Homo sapiens: one gene and its partners. The protein of the gene in region 3 interacts with the protein of the main gene of each other region in a biochemical or structural test. Each region holds a gene or a part of one and is shown on either strand. Other genes may lie near its edges.

Region 1 (7,688 bases), on a different chromosome or scaffold from region 3:
ACCCCGAAATCTCTGATCACTTTACCTCAATGGTTTTCTGCTGATCTATTCCAAGGCTGTGCATCAGTCGCAGAACCTGCTCATTAAACTCCCCGATGGATGGCTCATTTTCTTGCTCTTGTGGATAGAGAACAGGTCTCTGGACAGGAACTTCTATGAGCATCCATTTATGCTCCTTGATTTGGGCTATGGTTAGCCGTTTGGATGGGTCTAGGACCAACATCCTTCGGATAAGGTGCTCGCAATCTATAGAAAACACAATGTTACAAAAGTCACAAGAATCACCTTGCACTTCAGGGTTATTTGCTTGACTCATGTGACTTTGTACAAGGGTGTTAATCTTTGTATCCTCTACTGGAAAGCAGAAGGTCAAATGAATAAATGAACACATGCAGGCTACTTATATTTCTCAAGTTCACATGGTGAACAAATACCTAAGAAAAACAGGAGGGTGTAGGTCTATCAGATTCTGGGCTAAAGGAAACTTTCTACTGAATTTCACAACTGAAAATATCTAGAAACAGACTTTGGTTTCCACTAAAGGAAAGAAATAAGCCTCATTCCTAGAACAAGCAAATAATAAATCGATCCTCAGTCATATCTAATGCTGATATACTAAGGCTACGTAAGCGAGGCAAAGAGCTCTCCAACGGGCTGCTGCTCTCCTCCACATCACTGTAGCTGAGAAAAGTGTACATAAAATATTACTTACTTCTGACTACACCAAGAAAACCGCACTGCTGCAACTTTGAGCACTAGCATATTCTCTGAGCTGACATGATGCTCTTCACTCACACATAAGGTAACCTCCTGTCACTATATGGCAGGCGCTGTGCTAAGTGCTTTACACAGATTATGCCTATTTATTATATTATTATTGGAGACAGGGTCTCAGTCTCTTGCCCAGGATGGAGTGCAGTAATGCAATCACAGCTCACTGTAAGCAATCCTTCTGCCTCAGCTTCCTGAGTAGCTAGGACTACAGGTGCATGCCACCACACCCGGCTAATTGAAAAAAAACTTTTTTGTAGAGACAGGGTCTTGCAATATTGTGCAGGCTGGTCTCCAACTCCTGGCCTTAAGAGATCCTCCCGCCTCAGCCTCCCAGACCACTGGACTTACAGGTATAAACCACTGCACCTGACTGACAGATTAATTTAATTAAACCTTACAACACCCGTGCGGTAGGTGCTATTGTTATTTCCATTTTATAGATGGGGAAATTGAAGCAGATAGAGAGGAGACAAAACTTGTGAAAGTCATATGGCCAGTAACCAGTGGACTCAGGATTAAAACCAGGCAGTCTGGTAGTCTGCCTTCACAGTCCATGCTCTTAACTATGAAGAGTTATTATTTCTACTCTTAGTAGAAAGAACAGAGTTAAGAATGATAACCAAAATGAAACTAAGGGGTAAACTTAACTGCTATCTAGGTAACAGCTCAATACACGACAGGCAGGGATTATGGCATATCATCTGAATTTAGCAGAGTTTTGCCAGTTTGGCTTTTTATTTAATTAAAAAAATTTTAATTTTATAAAGTTCATTTCATATTGGAGTAAAATGGTTGTGAATCTGTATCTACAAAGGGCTTCGTTAAATCTAAAATAAACCTGGGACATTTATAGACCCAGAATGAATGAGAAGACATGCTGCTCTTAATCTGGGAAATGCTGTGTGTTTAGTTACAAGTAGAAGGCTGGAACCTGTCTCGCCTACATAAAGGAGGTTGCTTCTTTCTATAGCTTTTAACCTACAGCTCAGTCACTTTATTTGGCACCCAAACTCTTAGAAAAAAAGAAGCTTTTACCTAGGCATTTCACTTGGAGCACTAACACTGTAAAACACCATTAATAAGATGAAAAGTTGATTACCTTCTGACATGAAATACGGAATCCGGAATCTTCCTTCCAGAACCCTCTGCCTCAAAATTGGAAGAGTCGGTCCATCAAAGGGCAGAGCTCCACAGACAAGGACATAAAGAACAACTCCCATACTCTAGGGAAGAAAACAATGCAGAGACTTTTCTACCAAGAACGTCAAACACTCTTTGTTTTCCTGAACATCCCCAGGGCTCTTGAAATCATATGGACTGAAAAATTCCTGTCTGGATTTATTATTTTCTCAGAATTTGAAAAAAATCCAAAACCCTGACTACTACAATAAGTATCTTATAATAAATACCAAAGAATTTGAATCTGATAATTTTGATTACTACTTAACTTTAAATTACTGCTGATATTAGGATGACAACACCTATCCTTAGAAATTCTTTCCTAGGGATCCATTTCAAGATGCTCTGAGTAATTATAGTCCAGTGGATGGGGAAAATATGAAATACTGCTTATGTGTTAAGTACCAGGAGCTTCTAAGATGGGCCAGAACACCAAGTATTATCAGTATAGATGCATTTAACAACACAGCAAAGCAAAGCAGTACCCAGATGTCCAGCTGTGGTCCTTCATACTGCTGCCCTTCAAAGACTTCTGGGGCTGCATAAGGGGGGCTGCCACACCATGTTGCCAGCAGTTCACCACTTTTAAAGAAATTTCCAAAACCGAAATCTATTAGGATGGAAATAAATGTTATTTTCATCTATGCTCTCAAACTATACTGCATTTCTCTGTAATAAATTTTCTAATATGCTATATTAACAATATCACTACTATTTACTGTGAGGACTGGGATGGCATCTTATCTTGTGATGTTTCCCTGGCATTAGCACAATGACTAGCAAATAGTACTCAAGGAATGTTGCTGAATGAATGTGTAAATGAATCAAGTTTTCTTCCCAAAGCGAGTAAGTGAGAGACTGGAAAAATACTTTATATCATGTGAAAGAAAATCAGCCTTAAAGTGGACAACCCAACTAGTATTTGATAATCTTAGAATTTCAATTACCTGATGACTGCTAAAGAGCTCTTTATCTTAAATGGTCTATAAGGAAAGAAACAAATGAGTAAAGCTCTAAGACATTCACCTAAACACAACTGAGTGACTGGCTGCCATTACCCCAGATATATAACCCTTGAAGGCAACTGAGTGCAGTGTTTCCTAAGTAACAACCCTCTAAGTGTTGGTCCACATATCCTGTTTTAGGCAGATAACCATCTGAATAGCTCATTAACATATGATGGCCACATAGCCCAGCCACAAGCCACCTATCACCATCACTTATTTACTAATTTATGGATCGCAGTGGCATTATAGTTCAAAACAGTTAATGGCCTTCTCCTTATGATCTTAGCCATACTGACTCTACAGTTTTGATACAGAGAATGCACTCTGGAAACACTACTTAGATGCCTTCAACATGCATTAAAAAATTTAGTAAGTATTGTTACAAATGCAAGTTCATACCCTTTTGCTAAGCCTTTATAGTCTCATATTCTTACCGAAGAAACAAATACCTATTATCTTGTTAAGTTATACTCATGCTGTCTTATGTTGCTACATACTCCTGACTGAAGAGCCTGTCTCAGTGACAGGAACTGGCTCTCCACCCAGCTGGAGCACAGCATTGCATGCACAGTGAGCTTTAAGAGATGGCTCAAGAAAGACTGGATCAAGTCTCTACTGCCAGACAGATTGACTGGATTTGTGACTTTGGATCAGTCTTTGTGAGCCTTAGTTTCCCCATCTGTAAAGTGAAAATGATAAATACACTTAGTCAGCAGGTTGCTGTAAAGGCCCAATGTGTTAAAATAAGCTCACTCCATTCATACCTTGAGACCATACATACATGTGCACCTTAGGCAAAGCATTCTCTTAGCTTGCTAACATAAAAACTAGAGGCAAGCAGTAGTAACAGTAATAACAGTAACAATCCCCATTATTACAGCTTCATGGAAGAGTACAACCTATGAAGTTATGAGAACTACAGCTAATTACCAGTTTTATCACTTTCAAGCTTCAAGTCCTCTAGGAAAGTTATTTTTTCCATATCTATAAATGTAGTGATAATCCACCTACCCAGATAGGATGCTGTGAGGATTAAATGAGAATAAGAATGTAAAATGCCAGAGCATACTAGACGTGAAAGGTCAGCTCTCCTCCTCCTGTGAAACCATTACCACCAACTGTTGCCTTTCAGAGAAAAAGGTCCCAAAAAAGTAGATAGGAGGGGTAGAAAAAGTTTAGAGGGAGCTTCAAGGTTTAGGAGAGAAAAGAGGGTACATCTGGGGAAAGAGCTTCAGATACAGTCTAAACCTGGTGAACAACACTGTGGTCTGCCTTTGGTATCCAGGAGTGTGAGGCAAAGGTGGTGCCAGGGAGAAGTTCTCTCTTTACAATGTAACCTCAGCTCAGCTCCACAGTCCACTTTCCAAAATGACTGTCAGAAAGGCCTTATCTTCACAGTACCACCTCTATGACTAACCACTCCTAGAACATCATATCTCATATGGACACATACAGATATATATATTTCTAATTTTCTAGAAAAACTATACTCTCAAATGAGTCAAGGACTAGATGTTCCCATGAGTCGAAAACTAGATGTTCTCATGAGTCAAGGACTAGATGTTAAATGAGTCAAGGACTATGTTCAAATGTTAATTTCACTCACAGGATAAAGCAGCACAAGAAGCTCTCGGATGTGTGTTCAGAGATCCTGAAATACATACAATAATTGCTGCACTTTAAACCATAATCACAGGATGAGTTTTAGTGCCTGTAAATTGAGGATACTCTCCAAATAGCACTGGTAAGGTTGTTTTTCTTTCTTTCTTTTCTTTTTTGAGATAGGGTCTTGCTCTGTTGCCCAGGCTAGAGTGCAATGGCACGATCTCAGCTCACTGCAGTCCTCGCACCTCAACCTCCTGAGTAGCACAGGTGTGCTCCACCACACCAGGCTAATTTTTGTATTTTTAGTAGAGACAGGGATTTGCCATGTTTCCCAGGCTGGTCTCCAACTCCTGGGCTGACGCAATCCACCCGCTGTGGCCTCCCAAAGTGCTGGGATTACAGGTGTGAGCCACCACCTGGCCCATTGGTAAGTTTTAATGTCTCCAGGAGCCCTTATAGAGCCACTTCATTCTGAACTTCCCCACAGCTGGTGAAATAAACTCAAAGGAGTGAATGGGACAGAGGCCTGTCAAGAAGGTGGCCTGGCCTCTTTATTGCCTTAGGCTCTCATAGTACACTTCACAGGCAAGAGAACAAGAGCTGGGAACACTTCTCTGGACCCGTGGTAGCCCAGTTTCAACCTCTGCTTTACAAATCTAGCACAAAGAAAGCTTCCTGTTTGCTTACAGGAGGAGTGGTACTAAGCAGTTATTTCTATTTTCTGTAGGTAATATGAATATAGAAACTTGGGTCTATAGGGATATTAAAAGAAACACTGAAAGACAGGCTCACTAAGCTGTTACAATATTACATGTGCTGAGGTCTTCTATAACCTTGTCAAAGCACTTCAAATGTTATATTTATATATTCTTTTGAGACTGGTCTTGCTCTGTTGCCCAGGCTGGAGGGCAGTGGTGTGAATCACAGCTCATTGTAGCCTTCATCTCCCAGGCTCAAGTGATCTTTTTGCCTCAGCCTTCCAAGCAGCTGGGACCATAGACTCACGCCACCATGCCTGGCTAATTTTTTTTTCCTTTTTTCTTTTCCTTTTTTTGGGTAGAGACAAGGTCTCACTATGTTGTGTAGGCTGGTCTTAAACTCCTCGGCTCAAGTGACCCTCCTGCCTCAGCACCCAAAGTGCTGGGATTACAGGTGTGAGCCACTGCCCTCTGCCAAACACTGTATTTGTAATCATCTGAAGAATGGGTTAAGGAAGACTTTGGTGTTAGGCAGATTGGGGATCAAATCCTGGGTTTTCTATTAGCTATGCAATCTTGGACAAATTACTTAACTTCTTAGAGCCTTGGTTTCCTCATTTGAAAAATAGGGACAACACTTACATTTCATGAAGTAGTTGAATTAATAGAAATAGATATTATATTGCGATTGAAACATAGTAGGTAGTCAATAAACAGAAGCTATCATTGCTATTATTATTTATTATTTTACTTATCTGTCTATCCCATCAGACTAAGTTCCTCGGGAGCAGGGAATGGGGGACAACATTCTGTACTCCCAGCTCTCAGCATATCATCTGCAGACAACAGCTGCTCGATAAAGATCTGCTAGATGAATATGTTGTTCCCACCTCTTAAAAGTGCTTTACTATGTGACAGGAGCTGATTTAAACTCTCTGAAGATAATTTCTTCTTAGTTCTATGAAGTATCCTTATTTTAGGAGAAAGTGAGGGTATAAAGTTAAGTATTTTGCCAGAGGTTATACAGCTAGCTACTAAGTTGCAGCAGTGGAATAGAAACCAAGTTTAACTACTTCGAGCCTTCATTGTTAACCACCACCTTTATGTCTCTCACTGGCATGTCAAAAATAGTTATTTTTGAAGAAGTTAATAATTGTCAGGGTTAAAAAGTGGCAGCAAAAGACACTTAAAAATAAGAGCCTTTTAATTTCTTCACAGGAATCTGGATAACTTGCTTCACCCAGTCTGCAGCTTTCTGCCTAAATGCATATAGTGAAGTGGGAGGTGAGTAGGGGGGGAATGAAATGTGAAAATGCAGGATTTATTTCTTACTGCCATTTATTCAAATGAAATGGACTATACTCATGCTTCATCATACTAACCACATTCATTCATTCCTTCATTAAACATCAGCATTCCATACACATGTCAACCACTGTACAAACACAGAAGTCTTGCAACAACACAAAATAATAAGACTCCACATCATCATCTGACTTTTGGAAAACATTATGAAAACAATCACTTGGGCATTCGTCTCTCTCTCTACCAGACTCAGATCCAGCCTAGCCCTGCTAGAAAGCAAACATCTTTCTAGTTTAATGTCTTCTCTAATTGTGATATGCAGGTTAATACCTAAAACTATGGCTATGTTCCTCAGACATTCTGCTTGCTATTATAAACAAAACATTTATGCCATGCCACGTGGCTTCATTTTGACTTTTTTAAACTTTTAATTTTGAAATACTTTTAGATTTATAGAAGAGTTGCAACAGTAAATTCAGAATTCCCCATACCCTTCACCCAGCTTCCTCTAATGTTAACATTTTACATACCTACAGTATAATTATCAAAACTAAGCTTCAATTATCAAAACACTGATTCACTACTATTAATTAAACTACAGACTTAACATTTCATGAGTTTTGTCACATGTTCCTTTTCAGTTCAGGGATTCCACATTGCATTTAGCCTCATGATTCCTTAGTCTTCTCCAATTTGTATTCATATTCTCTCACCTGGGTTCTATATGGCCTGAAATATTTATAGAAGAGGATTAGGGGTAGAGTCTTTAATTACAGATCAGTTATCGACTCTCATGAAAATCAACTAGGCCTCAAAAGCTGAGTCCTCTGTCTCTTACTTAATTAACCAGCCGCAGCAGACCAAGGATATATCTGAACACAGCCCTAGAGCTGCTATTGTTTTCTGCTCTGTATTTTGAAAGTTGACTGACTGACCTATATGGTCCTAACAAAAACCATTATCACTGTCATCACTAAATTATATAAATTATCAGTGCCCAAACATCATTAGCAAAGGCACAATGTTTTAGGAATAAGAGGGTCTTGCATAGAGTAAATAAGCTAACTCTGATGATTGTTGTCTAATGGGAACCAAATACAAAATGGAGAATTCTGTTTGT
Region 2 (7,688 bases), on a different chromosome or scaffold from region 3:
GACAGTGTGGAATCTATGAAAAGCCAGAATAAATATTTTTATAATATTGAAATGGTAGACTGCAATATTGGGAAAAAAGAAGGTATTTTAACAGAGATGAAGCCAAAGTTTCATATAATCCTTGTTTCATTTACTTCTATCAGTAGTTTCATTTCTTTCCATCACTTATTCACTACAAAGTTATTGTGATCATCAATCTAACTTAAGTAGGGTTTTTTGTCTGTTCCATTTACAAAATGCTGCCAATGCTCACTAAATTGATCACACTACATCTCAATTTATTAAAGATGGGAATAATAGCTTTCATATATGCTGTCCTACATGGAATAAGGGAGTTATAAAAACTCTAAATTTTATTGAAAATTCAGATGCTCGATTTTTGAAACCAACAACTTTTAACAGTTAGTTTGTGTCATAAATCAAGCAAAAAGATGTTTCACAGTTTGCATTTTACATAATCTTAAAGAGTCGATTAAATTAGATTGAGGGTTTCTATAAAATGGAGAATGTTAGACAATGGTTCACTGGTATATACGATAACCACATCTCAGTGCGGCAGAGTGAAGGGACAATGCCACACAAAGGCAGGGCCCTGAGAAAGCTGAATATCTATATACCAGACTTTAAATAAAGAAGGAAATGCAGAGAACATATGTAGATATTAAACAATCAAATTTCAACAAATATGTCTTTCAACTTGAAAGGGTGTTAGCAAAGATCCAAACGTGACAGCCTATTCTGCAGGTGGCTTATCATGCCTTTTAAGCCATGCTTTCTATGAAAAATGAGGCATGGCAATATTAAAATGTTTATTTTTACTTGAAATGCAGTTTATCTCTCTGAAATCTGAAACATACAATAGTTTTGTAAATGCCCTAATTTTTAAAAATAAGTATCGGCTGGGCACGGTGTCTCATGCCTGTAATCCCAGCACATTGGGAGGCCGAGGCAGGCGGATCACGAGGTCAGGAAATCGAGACCATCCTGGCTAACACGGTGAAACCCCGTCTCTACTAAAAATACAAAAATTAGCCGGGCTTGGTGGCGGGTGTCTGTAGTCCCAGCTACTTGGGAGGCTGAGGCAGAAGAATGGCGTGAACCCGGGAGGCAGAGCTTGCAGTGAGCCGAGATTGTGCCACTGCACTCCAGCCTGGGCTACAGAGTGAGACTCCATCTCAAAAAAAATAAAAAAATAAATAATGATAATAAAAATAAGTATCAATTACTAAACATGTAGTTTGATAAGGTAAAGAAAATCAAACATGAAATTCTATGACTCATTGCCTCAGGTCTATGAACCCAGGAAATAAATCATTGCTATAACAGAATTTTGTTTCCATTGAAATGCATATATTCAATGAAATCCATCTTAAAATTTGAGATTTGTAAATGAAAAGGGCTACCTAAGCCACTTTGGGAGCAACACTGGTGCACATTTCTTCATTTGTAGCACCAGCTTCTGTTGACCAAGTTGATTCTCATACCTGGATTACTTGCCAGAGACAGGAACTTCCGTTCCTTTAGCAAGCTGTAGTTCTTCAACAGATTTTCTGCTCTAGCCAGTTTGTCCTCTGCTAGTCTCTCACGAACACAAAGCTCCTGTTCTTTCTCTTTAAAAAGAGAATGGACAAAGAAAAAAAAATTAACAACTGACCTTGACTAAAAAACAATTTACATTTGGCAATCTTATCACTACTAGCATGCCTGATACTGATAAGCAATGTTTGGGGAAAGGATTCTCACTATGCCTCAGTCAACCTGATTATGTTAGTTTTTAATTGAGTGTTTTAGTAGGCTGTATGTTATCTTAGATTTTCTTGAAAGGACTTGTTTAAACAAATACAAAGTTAGCTTCAACCTTTGGTCATCTTTTGTGGGAGTAACTCATTTGGGAAAACAAAAAACTAAAGCTATCTCTGCTCTTCACTGAAGATAAGCAACAGCTAATTTTCAGGGCATGATCTGGCCTCACAGTACAAAAATCTCCTTCTTCTGGTTGAATGACCACACCCAAACAAAAGAAAAAAAACACAATTCAGTTAGGTGGTAGTTCATAGGATTAGTATTAATAACAAATGTTACTATTTATTCATGGCCCCAAATTCAGAAAGTATTCAGATTTCAGTTGCTATATGAAATTATGGCTGGTCACAGTGGCTCACGCCTGTAATCCCAACACTTTGGGAGGCCGAGGCAGGTGGATCACCTGATGTCAGGAGTTCAAGACCAGCCAGGTCAACATGGCAAAACCCCATCTCTACTAAAAAATCAAAAATTAGCCAGGCATGGTGGCAGGCGCCTGTAATCCCAGCTACTCAGGAGGCTGAGGCAGGAGAATTGCTTGAACCCGGGAGGTAGAGGTTGCAATGAACCAAGATGGTGCCACTGCACTTCAGCCTGGGCAACAAGAGTGAAATTCCATCTCAAAAAAAAAAAAGAAAAGAAATTATGAAACACTGGGGAAAGTTATAAGAAAAAGCTTTCTTATTTTTTACAGAGGTTTCCAAGTAAGTATAGGTTGTACCTATACAGTAAGCATATCTCACAGGACTATACAATATTTCATTATTTAAAGCCTGGATTGGGCATAAAGCTGCAGAAGTAAAATCAGGTGAGTCATGAGGGTGACAGGTCACAAATACGACCCCATCTCTCGTCTCCTGATGTTAAAATGAAGAACCTCACTCTGTAGCTACCTTGCATAACCCTAAATGCTTGCGAGTAGCTCTCATCTTGGTGGAGTAGACACACTTTCAATATCAAAACTAAATTAGCATCTAATCAGTTAATACTCATAAGTCAATGTTAATACCCACCAGAGTATTATTTATAGACTTAAAATATCTTGTATCTAGATTCTCTATTGAACTGCCTGAACAGACCAGGTGTGGTAGGTCACACCTATAATCCCAGCACTTTGGGAGGTAAGATGGGAGGATCACTTGAGCTCAGGAGTTCAAGACCAGCCTGGGTAATATAGTGAGACCCCATCTCATTTTCAAAAATAAAAAGTTAAAAAAAAAGAAAAGAATTGCCTGAACATATCTCATCTACATACTGTAGGGTTTTAGACCTGGAATTCTGTTGGAGTGGCCATTTCAAAAGACAAAAGTCATGGTTTTTTATTATGGAAAGCAGCAATTTTAAGACCTTCCTTTACAGTGGGAAAACATTAGGGTATTCACAGTAGAGACGAAAAAGAAAAAAGTAACTCTAGAGTAAAATACAAGGCTATCGTATTAGGGCCATCACAGTTAAGGCCCAATAATATATAACTAGCAACTGATCTCAGAGAAAGATGTCCAACATGAAGGTGCCAGCAAGCCTGATTATTAAAAAGTCTAAAATACATATTTTGGTTTCTCAAGTATTTTTCAAAAGCTTCTAATAAGATCTGTATGTATAAAATATTCTGCTCAAAGAGATATTCAGACACATCAAAATAACCCACTTGGTAGTTCTCCTTTGCTTTGACCCCCATTCAGACTTACGCTCCAATCTTTCTTCTCTTGCTTTGAGAGCTCGCTCTCGCTCCTGTAACTGAATTTCCTTCAGTTTCAGCTCACTCAATACAGGGCTGGAATCCTGCGATTTTTCTGGCTCTCCTAATTGTCGCCCTCTTCTCTCAAGATTTCTTCTTTGCTCGTCTGCAACCAAATCTGCTATTAAAGGGTTCTCAAGAATTTCTTCAACAGAAGGTCGATGGTAATCCTGGGGAAAAAATACTCAGTATTATAGTCAGATTGCATAACAGAATAGTCCTCCTAAGACAGCAGTTAAAATAAAAGGACAAAAATGTGTTTCCAAGACAAAAGAAAGGACTCCTTTATGGCTAGGTCTTAAAAACTTGGAAAAATAAGTTCACTGGTGGTTTTAACTCATGAGGTTCTGGGTCCACAAGGTAATGCAGATGTTAACTTACCTTTTTTCCCTTTTCCCCTTTTCACCTTTCTAAGAAGGTTCAATCCCTGAAGATTGGCACATCTTGTGCTGGGGCTTGGTAGCATTGCTAGGGTCTGTTTTAGGGGAAGTACTGCCCTTGCATTTCTAAACTACATTTAGCAAGATACTCTCTCACTGACTCTCAATCCTGTCACTTCATCTGTATCCTTCTCTGTGATCCTACGGCATTTTCCTTCTTCTCTTATGTCAGCCTGGTCCCCAGAACATCTCCTTCCCCATTCTATAGCCAGAGTTTTTCCACATAATCTCTTTATTGATTTTCCCTCTGTTTTTAGCTGTCCTCCGTCCGCCCTCCATCACCCCTCCCCTTCTTCTGGTCTTTAATCTCTCAATTAGAGCTAGAGGCAGAGTAATAAACTCTTATTTCTGGCCCCTTCCCTCACTACCTGCCACTGTGAGGTAGGCAAGGACAAGGGGAACGAGAATTTGAATTCTTTTTGCAATCTTTCCTTGCTACCGACCATCTGTTAGCATGACAGAGTGGGAGGAGAAATAAAGAAAGCGCAGAAGGTGGGCCAGCAAGGATGTGCAATTTGCCAAATTTACATATGTTTTCACTTGTGTTAACACAGTAAATTTAGCTAAGAAAGTATATTTAACGTTTCTTCAGTCTCCATTGATCTACAAGAGAGAATGTATGCTCTGACACTTAACTGACAGCTAGAAACAGACAATATATCATCTTATCATCTTTACCTTTAAGTTTAACATCCTCGTAATAATTTCATTCAATTCATCAGAGTAACGGTATGGAATTCGCCTGAATTTGCCTTCTCTGATTTTCCCAGCGAGTTCTTTCTGGCTAAAAGCTGTAAATGGAGGCCTAGGGTTAAAAAAGAAGAAGAAGACGACGAAGACATTTTCAAATTGTAAAAATGAAAATATACAATAGGAACTAAATCAAAAGCACAGCTTAAGCTCCAGTTTGTATTTAAGTTTCTACTTCTGGGATTTTCTTCTTATAAGTAAGTTTCCCAACCTTGGCACTATTGACATTTGAGGTCATATAATTCTTTGTTGTGGGGGGCTGTCCTGTGCATTATAGGTATTTTGTAGCCTCCCTGCCCTCTACCCTCTAGATGCCAGAAGCACTCCCCAGCTGTGATAACTAAAAATTTATCCAAACATCATCAAATGCCCCATAAGAGGCAAATTTGCTTCCCTTATCCCTAGTTGAGAATCACTGCTCTACAGAATAGTTTCAAAGGGAAAGAAAATGAAAAGAAGAACAAAGGAAAAGAATTGGAGCTCTTCCCTGCTCTACAGATCCCCAGACCTCTACCCGAGTCTTGTTTCATTTCTTCCACATCCTTACAGTAGCTTTACCTTACCTGCCTGACCTATGTGCTCTCCCTTGAGCTAAGTGTCAATCTAATAAGAAAGCACCTAACCAGCCAAGACCCTTGAACAGTCAAGACCCAGCCTCATGGCTTATAGTTTTAATTTGTGAATAGTTTCTTTTAGCCTGTTCATCTATCTACCTTAATTTTACCCAGGGTACAATTCTTTCAGACTTGAATATACTTTCGTTAGCACAGAGGCTCAAAAAACTGAACCCAGTGAAATGTGACAAACAGTACAAACCTTAGACTAGGAATCTGTCTTCATCATACTTACATTAATGCACATAACTCATACAGCAAGCAGCCCAATGACCAGATATCTGATTTCTCATTGTAGGACATGCGATTCATTTGTTCCTATACAGGGAAAAAGGGTAAGAAAGTGGAAGGTGTTAAGAGTTTATTTTGTTTTGAAACTTAAAAAACACATTAAATTACTCCTGAGATAAAAACAGAACCTCAAAGTTTTTAGCTTATACTTTATCTTGAAATTTATAATGGAAAAAAGGCAATGATCTTGTTCCAATACACTCCATCATACATAATTCATTCACTCATTTTCCATTCACAAATGAAAGTGCTTAGTATAGACTAGGCACTGACAATACAGAGGTGAATATGAGAGACTTCTACTCTCAAGGCAAATTAAGAAACACCATTTTAAAAGAACTAGAGGAAATTTAAGAATAGTCAAAATATGTATCTAGTCCACATTTAAATGGATATAGACATAAATAGCTAATTGAATTATCCATTTATATTTTGTCTTAGTCCACTCCATAAATCACAGTAGTAACTAATATTATCCTTACCTATTTTATTGTTTGCCTTTCTTCCACATCTACAGTAACAACAGCCTACCAGAGCTCCTATTCTCAACAGAGGGAATAGAAGCAATCTCTAGTGGCTGGTTAGTGTTTTAAAGTCCAACTGGTGAGTCTGATGCCACTTTTTGACAATCAGTGCCTTAGGAAAGCTGAACCACTCTAATTACAAGGGCAGGAGGGAAAAGGAACAAAAGAATAGGTTTCAAATTTCCCAAGAACCACTTCTGGATAATTGTCCTTTATGTTAAAAACATTCTATTTGGAATTTGATACAGTGAGAAAATGGTACTGTTCTGGCTATTTTTAGTCAAAACCAAAATCATTAATTTACAAAGTTTTATACTATAGTAAGATCTGTTAACATAATTTATAAATATTTGGAAAATCCTAGAAAGGTGAACTACTAAAATACTAACAAATATTTCTTCATCTTTATCTGTTCAGATGTTATATACTAACACATTAGTGCTATCACAATTGACTTAAACTTTTTAAAAGCCATCAGACAATATCTAATAACAGCCATAAACATTTACCCCAGCAATTTCATTTTATGAGCTACACTCCAAGGAAATAACCAAAAAGGAAGAAAGAATAATTCATACAAAGATATGCAGAGCAGTACTTCTAAGAATGGTGAAACATGTTGGAAACAAAATATCCAGCAATAGAGGTAATTGGTGAGTGGACTCAGCAAGATATTTCAGGGATAGGCAACAAAAAAATAAAATGTACAAAAAGTTAACATTGTAAAAACATGCTATCTGAAGTGAGCAAACTTCCTGAGCTCTGATTCTGCATACACAAGAATCATTTACAGAGCCTCTTAAATGCAAAGTCTAAAATAAAAAGTAAAATATTAAAAAAAAAAAAAAACAGAGTTCAAGAACCCACCCAGAGATCGAAATTCACTCGATGGATTTGGGTTTGGGTTTGGGACCCAGAACTCTGCATTTTAAACAAACACTCCAAGTGAGTCTGATGCAGATAACTAGGACCTACACATTGGGAAACAACTCTTGAGGGCAAGGACAAAATCCATTTCATTTTTGTAATCCTTGAGTTTAATGCATCATAGTCATTCCATAAAAGCTTGAACTGAATATGCTTTAATTTGCATGAATGCTCAAAAAATTGAACCCAGTGAGAGATGACAAACGGCGCAAACCTTAGACTAGGAATCTGTCTTCATCATACTTACATTAATGCACATAACTCATGCAGCAAACAAAAACTGATATAGACTTTATTGGTCTGGTGGTCCATGTGGAAAAATATAACAGTATTTTCAATTCTTGGCTACTAGATATTACTAAACAAACAGAAAACTCAATTTCCCTGCTTCAGAATGCTTAACATTAAAAGATGTTTTGGCTGGGCATGGTGGCTCACGCCTGTAATCCCAACACTTTGGGAGACTGAGGTGAGCAGATCGCTTGAGGTCAGGAGTTCGAGACCAGCCTGGTCAACATGATGAAACCCTGTCTCTACTAAACATACAAAAATTAGCCAGGCATAGTGACATGCACCTGTAGTCCCAGCTACTCTACTTAGG
Region 3 (6,555 bases):
GCAGATTATGAGGTCAGGAGGTCAAGACCAGCATGACCAACATGGTGAAACCCCATCTCTACTAAAAATACAAAAATTAGCTAGGCGTGGCGGTGTGTGCCTGTAATCCCAGCTACTCAGGAGGCTGAGGCAGGGGAATCGCTTGAACCTGGGAGGTGGAGGTTGCAGTAGCCGAGATCGCACCACTGCACTCCAGCCTCGGCGACAGAGTGACACTCTGTCTCAAAAAAAAAAATTTTTTTTTAAACTTGACTCAGTATTTTCATTATAGTGCTGGTATTATTATTATTATTTAGAGACAGAGTCTCACTCTGTCACCCAGGATAGAGTGCACTGGCATGATCACGGCTCACTGCAACCTCTGCCTCCTAGGCTCAGGTGATCCTTCCACATCAGCCTTCTGAATGGTTGGCACTATTGGTGCGTGCCACCACCCTCAGCTAATTTTTAAATTTTCTTGTAGAGTTGAGGTCTCACTATATTGCCCAGGCTGGTCTTGAATAAGTAAATAACTACTTATATTAACAACATTAGAAACTAGACACAGGCCAGGTGTGGTGGCTCACGCCTGTAATGCCAGCACTTTGGGAGGCCAAGGGAGGTGGATCACTTGAGGTCAGGAGTTCAAGACCAGCCTGGCCAACATAGTGAAACTCCATCTCTACTAAAAATACAAAAATTTGCCAGGTGTGGTGGAGGCTGCCTGTAATCACAGCTACTTGGGAGGCTGAAGTAGGAGAATCACTTGAGTCTGGGAGGCAGAGGTTGCAGTGAGCTAAGATCGCACTATTGTACTCCAGCCTAGGTGACAAAGTGAGACTTCATCTCAAAAAAAAAAAAAAAAAAAAGAAACAATACAAAATTGGGCAGGTGGACAGGCTAAAAACTCTGTGACATTAAATTCAATCTGGAATTTTTTTTTTTTTTTTTTTTTTTTTTGAGACAGTGTCACTCTGTCGCCCAGGCTGGAGTGCAGTGGCGCGATCTCGGCTCACTGCAACCTCCGCCTCCCGAGTTCAAGTGATTCTCCTGTTTCAACCTCCTGAGTAGCTGAGATTACAGGCGCGCACCACCACGCCCGGCTAATTTTTGTATTTTTAGTACAGACAGGGATTCACCATGTTGGTCAGGCTGGTCTCGAACTCCTGACCTTGTGATCCACCCACCTCAGCCTCCCAAAGTGCTGCGATTACAGGCATGAGCCACCGTGGTCGGCCCAAACTGGAAATATTATGAACTCGATTTTCAAACTTTTTATTGTGACAAAATAATACACAAAATTTACCATTTAAAAGTTATCAATGGCAATAAAGTTCAGTGGCATTAAGTATGTTCACATTGTTGTGCAATCATAACCTCATTGAACTAACAGTTTACAAAGTACATTTTCTCCCTCTGTCATCTGAACAGCCATAACACTCCATTAGCAACGATCAGCCCTGCAATCCAGATTATGTTTTTTGTTTTTCGTATTTTTTTTTTTTTTGAGACGGAGTCTTGCTCTGCCACCCAGGCTGGAGTGCAGTGACGCGATCTCAGCTCACTGCAACCTCTGCCTCCTGGGTTCAAGCAATTCTCCTGCCTCAGCCTCCTGAGTAGCTGGGACTACAAGGTGCACACCGCCACCCCCGGCTAATTTTTTGTATTTTAGTAGAGACGGGGTTTCACCATGTTGCCCAGGCTGGTCTCCAACTCCTGAGCTCAGGCAATCCGCCTGCCTCAGCCTCCCACAAGTGCTAGGATTACAGGCGTGAGCCACTGCACTCAGCCTGATTTTTGTCTTCTAAATACTTTTTCTTCACTAAAAGATTCTAGGCCTAGACAAGTACAAGAACACTTGGACATTAGATTTGCGGCAATTTGAGCATCAAAAATAGCAACTGTCATGATTGAATCATAGTGAATATATAAAAAACTTTGAGCTCATAATGATACTCAAAGAGAAAGGGAAAACTGGCGGTGGCTATTACCTCAACCCCTTACTCTGAAAATTGGTAATTAAAGGTGTGTGTTGAGGGAGCATTTATCCTGCCTTTTTGGTAGAAACAGTAGTTCAGGGTAACCAAATAGCCTCAGTAAATGAGTTTCCAGTTACTGTGTATCTAAAACAAATATCCACCGCATGCTACCCCCTTGGCTGCTCAACTACCACACACAACCTAACAAAATGCAAATATCCCACATAAACCGACATCCCTGACACATTGTGGTGCACCAGGTGTCTAGGAATGAGGTAGCTCAGAGTCAGGATCCGAGAATCCCCAAAGGTGTAGGTAGTGCGGCCTCGTGTCCAGATACTGGACCCGTTATGGCACCACATAGACAAGTTACTATTTTAGAGGAATAAAGTGAGCCAGTAGAAAAACATAGTTAAAAAAAAAACAAAACCCGCTGCCTCTGAAGAGGAGTTTGAGAAGAATGAGGTGGGAAACTGCTATCTTCTTTTTATTTAATTTCCTTTTTTTTTTTTTTTGAGACAGTCTTGCTCTGTTGCCCAGGCTGGAGTGAGTGCAGTGACATGATCATGGTTCACTGCAACCTTGACCTCCCTGGGCTCAGGTGATCCTCCCACCTCAGCCTCCCGAGTAGCTGGGACTACAGGCACATCATCACACTGAGCTAATTTTTATATTTTTTCGCTTAGGATGGTCTTGAATTCCTGAGCCCAAGCAATCTGCCTGCCTGGGCCTCCCAAAGTGCTGGGATTACAGGCGTGAGCCCCCAAGCCCGGCACTGTTTAACTTCTTTAATTTTTTTTTTTTTTTTGAGACAGGGTCTCACTTTTATCACTCAGGCTGGAGTGCAGTGGTATGATCTCGGCTCACTGCAGCCTTGACCTTCCAGGTTCAAGCGATCCTCCTGCCTCAGCCTCCCAAGTAGCTGGGACTACAGGCACGCACCATCATTCCTAGCTAAAATGTCTTAACCACGTACATGCACTTGTTTCATTTTAAATAGATGACAAGAAAGTCTACCAAAGAAAAAAGTTTGGATGCATGGGAAATTTATTTTTAACCCTCTTACATTTTCCTATAGATTCTATCCTCAAGAGGAACCAAAAAGCTCTTGCTTTTCTCTCCCTGCCTCCAGCTTGACAACCCTACACTGTGAATAGGCAGCTCCTCTCTCAGATATACAACATGCCAGCTTTGGCACAGGGTGGTGCCCCTTTTCATTCTTATCTCCATCACCCTTGATTGCCAAGCCTTCCCTTGGCAGCTGGACCCTGGGCTGAACACCAAGATGAAGGACTCTATTGGGCATCGACCCCTTAATCAACCCCAGGGAGGACACAGGACACATTGAATGCCACCTCTCCTCTTAGCTTTCAGCCCAGCCTTTAGCAGGGCACCCTTGAGGACTGAATAGGTCCAGAGGGAGGCAGGAGCTAAGGTGCTGGAAGGAGGTGTTCTGCGGACGGTTGAGGAAGGGATGGAGGCCAACAGGAGAGGGGAATGTAGAGTCTGTGACCATGGCTTCCCACTTTTCTCAGTGCCCGGTGTCTGAGTCAGCATGCCACTTGCCATGTGCTCTGCCCTGTGGGACAAGAATGTAGCCTTCAATGGGGGGGTTTGAGCTTATGCTCACCTGTGGCTGACGTTTCTGCCGTCTGCTCAGAGGTCTAACCTGAATGAATGGATAACACCTGCCATTGCTTCTGGATGTACCCCTGGACTCCACACAACCCGTGCATCCAACTGGCTTGACACTTTGAAAGGGCCTTCAAGCCCTCTCTTTGTCCAAGATGCTCTGTTTGACTCTCCCTGGCCTCACTGAGAGCAGCCAGTGGGTCTCTTCTGCACAACTGGGTCATTCTGCAAACTTTCATCTGTGTCCAGGTTCTGTGTGCCTAGAGGTGAGCTCCTTCTCAGAGATCCCTGTGGAGCTTTGTTTAAATGAGTATTTGCCAAATGACTGAATAGCTGGGGCAGGAGCAGCAGCTAGCCAATCTCATTCACCAGGTAATGGAGTCAGGCAGACAAACTTCAGATGGCCCTTATACAGGGAAGAGAGTTATAGCCAAAGGCTCCAGCATGAATCATCAAACCACATACAACAGCAGAAGCCGAGGCCATCAGTCAGCTAGAATGTGAGACTACTCCTGGCCAGCAATCTGACCTGCAGGGCTGGAATGTTCATAGATACGGGAGAGGTTTTGATAGGAAACCAAGACAGGAGGTGCAAGGGCAATGTGTGGATTATTAATCTGGCCTTCCCTGATTCCCTCACCTGAACAACTGGTAGTAATTAAGAAAGAATCACATTTGAATATGAATTCTCGTCCCCCTCCCTGGCTCTAAATAAATGGCCATGTGCTGGGAATAGGGGTTACCCACTCTCTCAGATGACACATCACACAGCCTTGGCAGAGACTCATCTCTCCTCCTACCCCTGACCCATTCAATTATTTTACCTCCAAGCCCATCCACCTGAGCCAAGGTTCAGGCCCTATAAGGGCATATATAGAGCTGGTAGTATTGCCAATGAAAGGCTAAGAAGAGGTCAGAGTGTCCACCCTGTGACCAGGCTACTGATGTAATGAGTTGGGTGAGATCAACTGGCCAGGAGCACAGTCCAACGAAGTCTCACCTCTCATCCTCACCTCCAGCAGGGTAGAGGGAGTAAAAGGGCCTCAGGACCCCATGTTTTTGCCCTTCATCCTCCCTTGCCTGCTTCTTAAGTGTGGTGAGCAGAGTTGAGCTTGCACTCCTCCTCAGCTGTGCCCAGAATCATGTGGAGGGCTCTCTTGGTTTGGAGCACACTGGCAGCTCTTGCTTCTTCCTCTTCCCTGCCCCTGTCCCCTGGCCCCATTCCCCCGCTCTGCAGAGTACTGGGTCAGAAGGCAGGAGGTGAGGTATTGCAGGGTGGACAGCTGAAGGTATCATCTACCCCAAGGCCAAACTAAAAAAACCAGGAATCTGTCCCATGGGCTGAGATGAGGCCTGCAGGCAAAGCCTCAGGCCTGGAAGTCAGCTCACTGCTTTTGTGGCTGGGGTTTCCCACCCCACAGGTACTTCTAGAAGTTCTGCCACTGGCCCCAGAGCTGCAGAGGTTCTGTGGCTGCTCAATTCAGCCCCGCATCTACAAAGCCTGCCTTCACCAGCATGGTGTGTCTGCCTGGTTTGATCAGCACTTCAGATGGGCCCTGAAGCCCCGATGCAACTGGAGACCACGCCATCTCCAGAGGCCGGTGGATGCTCGGTCCTGGGCTCTGGGCTGCATCCTCTTCTTGATCCCTTCCTCCGCTGGGCCTCCAGTTGCAATGGCTCCAGCCTTTCCTTGGTACTGGAACCAGGGGTGAGTGATAAACAGTCTGTGTTCTTCTCCATAGGCACCAATGCTAGGACACCTAACCCAATTCCGGCTGGTCAAGAAGCTACTCCAACCGATCCCCAGGTCACAGCTAGACCCCGAGCTCCGACTCTGCCAGTCCTGGGCCATGCGTATTTGGAATATAGGATAACCATCACTGAGCACCACACTGTGCTCAGGTGGGGGCAGAAGGGTGAGGGTGGGAAGCAGCACCACTCTGTGAGCCCCAGTGCCTTCCTATCTCTGTAGAATAAAACAGGGCCTATTCTGGGCTTTAAGAATAACGTGGACAACAGAACTCCCCTGCACTTAAAGCACCCCGAATACTCATGGCCTGCATGAGAACACCCACATGCTGTGGGTGTCGAAGCCTCCAGACCTAGTGTGGACTGCAATGGTTTTATCAGGCGGTATGACCAGTGGGGGCCCCAGACCTGGCGCAGACAGCCTTTGGCACTTTGGTGTCAACATTGATCTTGCCCTCCCTGTGCAGCCTGTAACTGTACACTCCCCACCCTCCTTATCTCAACATACACCACCAGCTTCTCCTCCTTTAACGGGTACATTCAGTTTTTCTGCCTTCAGGGTGCTGGCAGTCCCATGTGGGAAGCAGAGCAGCAAAGGTCCTTGGGTTGGGAGGTGATGGTCACTGCTCTAACACACAAAGCACGTGGGATCCTTGAGAGAACAGGGGCAGCACCCGCCGGACCTCAGCACTCCCCGGAAACAAGAACATTGCCCAGCCTCTGACGACTCTTGTCCCCTCCTGCTTTCAGGCCTTTCCAGCCAGTACCAGCTTCTATCAAAGCAGACAAGATTAGGAAGGGGGAAAAAAGTTTTCTGCAAGAAGATAATCTCTGTGGCTGAGCTCTAACCTCTACTCCTGCATGTTCTGGTGGCCAATTGCACCTTCCTCAAGTACATCCACGAGAACTGGCTGGACTGCCAGGGACTCCTCCCGTCTGCTGGATTCACCATTCTGGTTATACCCTGCCACATGTGACAAGGTCAGGAAAGGAGGCTCCGGCCTCATGCCCTTAGGCAAAGTTGGGTCCCCCCTGGATGACACATATTCCTTCCTTCACACTTCCCCACTTCAGGTCTCTTTGGGTCTGGAGCTGATGAAAACAGCAGTTGTCACCATTATTGGTGGGACACTCCACAGAGGCAATCCTGCTACTGGGCAAGGAAAGTGTACTTTAGAAAGCCGGAGTGGAAGATCATCCACAAGCTCGAGTGTGA

Evidence for each region. Proteins that work in one complex are often made in the same cells at the same time.
Region 1: of the proteins of CEP250 (region 3) and SIK2, one has a biochemical effect on the other in vitro, tested with the Homo sapiens proteins (one study listed by BioGRID and IntAct).
Region 2: of the proteins of CEP250 (region 3) and NEK2, one has a biochemical effect on the other in vitro, tested with the Homo sapiens proteins (one study listed by BioGRID).

The regions. Positions count from the first base shown.
Region 1 is NC_000011.10:111,695,761-111,703,448, reverse strand, and holds part of SIK2 (serine/threonine-protein kinase SIK2), read right to left. Parts: intron 6,548-7,688; exon of another isoform or gene 6,494-6,547; coding exon of another isoform or gene 6,482-6,493; intron 4,705-6,481; exon of another isoform or gene 4,644-4,704; coding exon of another isoform or gene 4,569-4,643; intron 2,564-4,568; coding exon 2,439-2,563; intron 1,998-2,438; coding exon 1,874-1,997; intron 247-1,873; coding exon 26-246; intron 1-25. UniProt on the Homo sapiens protein: Serine/threonine-protein kinase that plays a role in many biological processes such as fatty acid oxidation, autophagy, immune response or glucose metabolism.
Region 2 is NC_000001.11:211,665,622-211,673,309, forward strand, and holds part of NEK2 (serine/threonine-protein kinase Nek2), read right to left. Parts: intron 5,664-7,688; coding exon 5,581-5,663; intron 4,787-5,580; coding exon 4,660-4,786; intron 3,712-4,659; coding exon 3,492-3,711; intron 1,611-3,491; coding exon 1,485-1,610; coding exon of another isoform or gene 1,441-1,484; exon of another isoform or gene 796-1,440; intron 1-795. UniProt on the Homo sapiens protein: Protein kinase which is involved in the control of centrosome separation and bipolar spindle formation in mitotic cells and chromatin condensation in meiotic cells.
Region 3 is NC_000020.11:35,513,964-35,520,518, reverse strand, and holds the end of CEP250 (centrosome-associated protein CEP250), read right to left. Parts: 3' UTR 6,493-6,555; coding exon of another isoform or gene 6,490-6,492; 3' UTR 3,538-6,489; coding exon of another isoform or gene 3,490-3,537; 3' UTR 1,239-3,489; downstream 1-1,238. UniProt on the Homo sapiens protein: Plays an important role in centrosome cohesion during interphase. Recruits CCDC102B to the proximal ends of centrioles. Maintains centrosome cohesion by forming intercentriolar linkages.